2 linked regions of the Homo sapiens genome follow. The protein of the gene in region 1 interacts with the protein of each later gene in a pairwise test. Each region holds a gene or a part of one and is shown on either strand. Other genes may lie near its edges.

Region 1 (3,500 bases):
CATAGCATCTCCACAGGCAAAAGACCTGGACTAGAACCTAGCACAAGATCACCACCTGGGCAGGGGTGGGCTGCACAACTCATCCGGGCCTCTGGCCACAAGAACAGCGGAAGGTGTGTAATGGGCATGAAGCAGGAGCCGCAGCACTGGGCTGGGCTCTATGAGCTGTGGCAAAGAAAAGCCTAGCCCAAGAGCTACTGGACAAATCCCTCCAGACCACCCACATCCCCTACTCAGCTGCCGCCTTGGTTCCCAGCATGAGCAACTTCTGCCTCCAACAACAAACAGACCACAGCCTCAGCCAGAGGGGGCCCATGCCCTGCAGATCCAACTGTGCCCACAAAGGCCACTAGCAGCTTACAATGGCCTGATCGCCTTTGTGGGAAGTTCCCAACACCACAGGTTCTGCCCCCAACCTCCCCCACCTTAAAACTACCCAGACCTTTGAGAAGAAATCTTGTGACACCTTTTTTTTTTGAGACAGAGTCTCGCTCTGTTGCCAGGCTGGAGTGCAGTGGCACCATCTTGGCTCACTGCAACCTCTGCCTCCTGGGTTCAAGTGATTCTCCTGCCTCAGCCTCCCGAGTAGCTGGGACTACAGGCGCCCGCCACCATGCCCGGCTAATTTTTGTATTTTTAGTAGAAACGGGGTTTTACCATGTTGGCCAGGATGGTCTCAATCTCTTGACCTCGTGAACCATCCGCCTCGGCCTCCCAAACTGCTGGGTTTACAGGTGTGAGCCACCGTGCCCAGCCCTGTGACACTTTTTGCGGAATTAAAAGCAGGTGTCTAGCTTGGTCAGAAAGCAATGACTGATTCCGTATGAAAACTGGTGAGAGCTGGGCCCTTGGGTCTGCAGGTCAAGCCCAGAATTGGCTGTGATAGTTCCACTCACCCTCACTGTTCTTGGAAAAGTTCAGCTTGATCAGGGACCTCCCGTCCAGCTTCTGGAAGAAGCACAGTTAATAATTAATGATAATGAATAAGTAACTGATGCACAGAGATGCTAGGGTCAGAGACAGGCAGGAAAAGTCTCTGACTAGGCCAACCCTGTGCAGCTCTGGACAAAAGGGAAGGCCCCAAGACCCTGCAAGGACCTCACGGGGGCTGCAGGATGGCGTCGGGCAGTTGTGTTTATGTGGCACCCCCACCACGCTCTGAGAAGAGCCGTCACGGGTGACCCCGAGCAGGAGGACCAGGCCACAGGGTGGTGTGTGTTATACTTCTGCAGGGTTTGGACGTCTTTATGGTGAGCACAGATTACTTCTAAAATTAAAAAGTGAACATATTTCTTCAGCTAGAGTGGTGGGACACACAGAGTCCCTCTCTGTCACCAGGCTGGAGTACAGCGGCAACATCTCAGCTCACTGCAACCTCCCACTCCCTAGTTCAAGTGATTCTCCTGCCTCAGCCTCCCGAGTAGCTAGGACTACAGACACACGCCACCACACCAGGCTAATCTCCTGACCTCATGATCTGCCCACCTGAGCCTCCCAAAGTGCTCTGTCATATGAATATTTAAGAAAAACAAAACATTAAAAGTGGGGAGAAAGTAAGAAATACACTCCAATGCTAAGAATGGTTGTGTTGGGAAGATGGGACTCTATTTTTCTGTTTCTGGATGTTTTTTCTTTTTTCTTATTTCCCCTACCCCAGGTGGCAGGTAATGTTTTCAGTTTCTGTGGTGTGTCTGCAGTACAGCTCTTCCACAGCAAACTTTCCCATAAAACAAAGTCTGGACAACCGGAGGTGGGAACTGCTGGGGGCGGGGCTGTGGGGAGACCCTGGAAGGGAGGCAGAGCTATGTGCTGCTGGGGAGCACCTCACTCAGGGCCACAATCCAGCAGCTGCTGCCACCTGGTGTGGGCTGGGCCCAGCTATGCCTACCCAGGCCCAGGGGAGACACAGCGGGAGCCTCCTGGGGCTGGGCCCTAAGCTGGCAGCAGGTCCTTAAGCTGCCCTCCCCGCCCTCCGTGGGCCCTGCCTGCTGCTGGCCAACCCAACTGACCGCATCTGCTCCTCTAACCACCTTCGTTCCTTCCTTTGTCATTCAACTACCCCCACCTCCCTACATCACTACAGGTGTGGAGGAGACCACCAGAGGGCCAGCAGGGTCCCTATTCAGACACAGGACCTGAGCAGAGAGACTCCCCAACACAACAGGCTCCTCCTGAGCCCCCAAAAGTCACATGGGCCAGCCAGCCCTTGGCCCAGGAACTCTCCTCAGAGGTTTGGCTAGCAAGGCTCTGCTGACACCCATAGGTCTGGCCAAGCAAGCACACAGCAAGGTCCCTTCCAGAGCAGGCCAAGGGAGAGGCGCAGGCACAGGATAAAGACGTGTAGGGCGCTCCTGCAGACTCACCCCAACATGATGCCTGGAACAAAGAAATGGCCACACCTCCCTGATGTAAGCCCTAACAGCGTGGCTAACTGCCAGATCAGACTTTGTGGGTGTGGGGGCCAGCACAATCGACAAGTTTGGGAACCCCAAAGAGTACCTGTGAAGCAAAACACCCAAAGTAGCAAAATGCATCCCAGCTGCAACCAAATGACAGAATCCACTGGGACAGCAGGGGCCATGAGGGCAGCTGTGGACAGGAAAACCCCACCTACCCCCACCTTGCCACCAGGCTGCTCCCTGAGGCCGACACCCAGCCACACAGGGCACAGGCAGGCAGCAGGGACCTCTGCTGAGAAGAGCAACAGAGAATGACTTCCCAGACTGGGGCACGGACCTTGGGGGAAGCCCCTGGGATCCAATGTGGCTCCCAGCAGCAGACATCACAGAAACAGTCTTCAAGTGACAAAGACCAAGGAAGAAGAGTGCCCTCCCTAAGGAGGTGAGGCCACAAGCCCCCTACCCAAGCATTTGAAAGAGAAAAGCCACGGGCTTTAGTCGCTGGTCCAAGAACACTCAAAAACCAGCCCCCTGGCCAAGTTCCCCTTGTACTGGAGAGCAGGGAAGCCTTGGAGGAGCACCAACTCCATCTACAAAGAGTCCCCAGAACCCTGCAGCCCCCAGAACACCACAAGGGCCAGAAGAGCTGAGACAGATGGGCTGCCAGCTTCTCCTGCTGGCCCGGTAGGGAGGGTCATATTGTCCAGGGAGCTCCCTCCCAGCGGCTCCAGCACAGGGAGCCCACCGGAGTCCCGACCCTCCGTCTCGCACAGTTTGAGCTCTTGCCCCAGGCCATAGGAAAGAGGTGGAGGAATACATGCAAGTAATTCCAACAGGAAGGGCAAGGTCACTGGTAAAATACACTAGATCTCCCTCGGAACCAGGCTGCATAATGTCCCCACAAAACTGATGCTCACTGGGAACCTGTGAATGTGGCCTGACTTGGATATAATCAAAGGTTTATATAGGGTCTTTGCAGATAGAATCAAGTTAAGACGAGGTCACAGCTATGGCCCAAGAAAAGACATGCACATATATACACGTGCACAGGCCGGAAGCATTTCTGGAAAAGAATGGGTGTGGGGAGAGGAGGGGAAGACT
Region 2 (3,500 bases), on another chromosome or scaffold:
ACCTCATATAAGCGCAACTATAAAATATTTGTCCTTTTGTGACTGGCTTACTTTACTTAGCATAATGTCTTCAAGGTCTATCCATGTTGTAGCACGTATCGGAATTTCATTCCTTTTTCAGGTTGAATAATATCCTAACGTGTGCACATACCACATTTTACCTATTCATTTGTGGATGAACACTTGGGTTGTTGCCACCTTTGGCTACTGGGAGTATTGCTACTATGAACACTGGTGTACAAGTATCTGTTTGAATCTCCACTTTTGATTCTTTTCACCTAGAAGTGAAATTGGTGGATCATCATTCTGTTTGTTTAACCTTTTGAGGAACTGCCAAACTGTTTTCCTCAAGAGTATATTAAATGGAGGTTGTGGAGTCAACTTCTAGAGAGTGCTAAAGACCAGCAAATGGCCATCTGAGTGGGTCTGTGCCATTAGATCAAGAAAGAAGGACAATGCTAGAAACACCGGAGCATCCAGGGCTGAGAGTGTCCCGGGCCACAATAGGCACACATTGGTTTTGAGGCACAAACTGTTGAGTCTGTTAATAAGAAAGTATTGTATTTCTTCTTGGCCTCACGAGAACCTGAGCCTCAATGGCCACCACTGTCCTCTCTGTTCCAGCTGCCAAGAGTGACAAGACACACATACCCCGAGACTGCTGAGCAAGAACGGAAACAGACATTTTCCATTAAGCTAGGTCCAGTGGGATCTGCTAATCTATCAGAGCCTCATTCCCCACGGCGGCCTCTCTCTTATCTTCCCAGGCTCTGGCTCTGAGACACTCCCTCTCCAAAAAGCAATCACTAGCTTCCAGGACTAAAAGCCAAGGAGGAAATAAGAACCCAAGAACAGACGCCCCCTAAGCACCACACCCCGGGGCTCCAAACCCTAATCATTACTACTGTTATCCCCATTTGCTACATTCATCAACCCTTTTTCACTCTTAAGTCTCAAGTACCTGCTGCTAGGATACCGTTTTCACTCCCATTTTTGCACTCCTCATTTGTATTGCTTTCTGCTTTCTGGCTGCCCCAGGCTCTTCCATGTTTTCCATAGACACCCCGATAAACACAACAAATCTCATCCAGGTTCAAATACAATTGCAGCTACTCACAAACTGTGTTTTCAGGCAAATCACTTCTGTTCTCTAAACTCCTGTTTTCTTCTTTATAAACTAAAGTAAGTGCCCAGCACAGTTCAGACATTAAGCAGGTGCCCCACACAGATAAGCACACTCTCCCTTCCCTTTAGCTAGGGCTAAAACTTAGCTAAATCCACTGCAGGCAATTCTTATTTGGTTACTAGAAGTGACAAAAATTAGTGAAATCTGTCTCAGAGCTTCAAATTTTCTACTATCTTGGTAAACAATCTGAAAGTGGTGGTAAATACTAATCCAGATAACCCTGAAATTTCTGTGTGCTTTGGAATACACTTTATAAATGATAGAAAACTCTTCCAGCAGACTTATTCTTCTGATTTTGGTTTCTCATATGCTAGGAGAAGTCTGCCTCCCCTGAGCCTATGAAATCAACCAGTGTAGCTTGGGTCACAGCAAGAAGGGAAAAAGAAAGGACGATTATCCATTCTATGGATCATTCCTAATTCCCCACAAAAATCAAAAGCTGACTGAATTTAATTTTGGAATACGCCTGGAGGGAGAATTTGGTACTACGCTGACTGCAGATGATTGGATAATATGACCCAAATCAAATCAACCAAATTCTCACTCCAGGAAAACCAGAATTGAGACTACCATCATAGTTCAATCTGGACTGATCTCTAAAAGGAAAGAAATCAAAACCAAGGTGTGGGTGGCCATCCTTCACCTACAACAAAGGTTAAGAAGCCAATCCGCAGAGAAATAATGAATCAAGGCCAGAAGCAGTGGCTCACGCCTGTAATCCCAGCACTTTGGGAGGCTGAGGCAGGCAGATCAGTTGAGCCCAGGAGTTTGAGACCAGCCTTGGCAACATGGTGAAACCCCATCTCTACTAAAAATACAAAAATTGACCAGTCCCATAATCTGGTCTCAAAACAAATAAATAAATAAATATATTAAAATTTAAAAATAAAACAAATTTTTTAAAAAATGAATCAGATGTGCAAAGAACAGCTGTGTAGAGATCCCCAACAGATCTCAGGTTCCTGATGCAGGTCCCTTCTGAGGTACCACAGTATATTTATGATGCATTACCATTTAAGGCTAGGCGTGGTGGCTCACATCTGTAATCCCAGTACTTTGAGAGGCCAAGGCAGGAGGGCTGCTTGAGCTCAAGAGTTCAAGACCAGCCTGGGCAATGTAGCGAGACAACGTCTCTATTTATTTAAAAAAGAAGAAAAAAAAAAAACATTTAAACTAGCTTGAGTTGGCTTCTAACACTTGCAACAAATGAAATCTAACTAACCCCCAATCTGCTCTGCCTCCCGTATTCCCTCAATAAATGGCAACACCACCCCCCAGCTGCCTGAGGCAAATGCAGTGGGGGTCAATCTTGAATCCTCTCCTTAGTGTAACATCTAATCAATCCTCCAGTCTTATCACTTCCCCCTCCTAAATATACCTCGATGCTCCAGTTCTCTCCATCCCCTAGTTCATCATCCAGGCCACCAGCCTCTCACATTCTGCCAGTCTTGCTCCCTCCAAGGTTCTCACCACTCTGTGATCAGAGAATTCTTGCCTTTAAGGGGTCTTCACAACCCCAAAATGAGGTAGAAAGACCCTAGCATGGCATCCAAGGCCCATTATCTGGCCTGAGCCTCTCTCTCTCTAGCCCCATTCTCTCAGCACTCCCCACCCTCTCAAATGCTCCAGCCACTGTGCTTTACTCACCTGAGGTTCCCTGAAAGCACTGTCCCTCTCTGTCCTCCAAGCTTTTATACATTGTTTCCTCTGCTGTGCTGCTCCCATACTACCCTTTCTTCAGCCTTATCTCTGCTTAGACATCTCCCCCCAGAGGGCTCCCCAACCTCCCAAGACTGGACTAATGCCCACTAGGTATACTCCAATGGCACCAGCTTATCACGGTCCTTCTCTGCCTTGTCCTAAAATCTATTTCCTTCTGTGTTTTCTCCAGTAGATCATAAGCTCCTTTCGGGCTGGGGCTATCATGTTCACTACTGTACATTCTTAGCTCCAGGTACAAAGAAAGAGCTCAATATCAATTGAACGAAATGGTTGAGAGTTAATTACTTCTAATTACTTCTACTTCAGCACCAAACTCTAAAGGGAAATTATTTACTTAAGGAAACCTAATTCATTCTTTCAAATGCGTACTAAGAGCCTAAGTGTAAGACATAGAGCTCAGAACTGGAGGGGCTTACATCTGGAGGGGGCACAGCTCTTTTAAAGACAATGGTTGGCTGGCGTGGTGGCTCACACCTGTAATCCCGGCACTTTGGGAGGCCAAGGTGGTCAGATCACCTGAGGTCAGGAGTTGAAGACCTGCCTGACCAACATGGAGAAACCCCAGTCTCTACCAAAAATACAAAATTAGCTG

The links.
Region 2: the proteins of PPIL2 (region 1) and PRCC interact in a two-hybrid assay, tested with the Homo sapiens proteins (one large-scale study listed by BioGRID and IntAct).

Annotation. Positions count from the first base shown.
Region 1 is NC_000022.11:21,672,512-21,676,011, reverse strand, and holds part of PPIL2 (RING-type E3 ubiquitin-protein ligase PPIL2), read right to left. Parts: intron 949-3,500; coding exon 897-948; intron 1-896. UniProt on the Homo sapiens protein: Has a ubiquitin-protein ligase activity acting as an E3 ubiquitin protein ligase or as an ubiquitin-ubiquitin ligase promoting elongation of ubiquitin chains on substrates.
Region 2 is NC_000001.11:156,770,535-156,774,034, reverse strand, and holds part of PRCC (proline-rich protein PRCC), read right to left. Parts: intron 1-3,500. UniProt on the Homo sapiens protein: May regulate cell cycle progression through interaction with MAD2L2.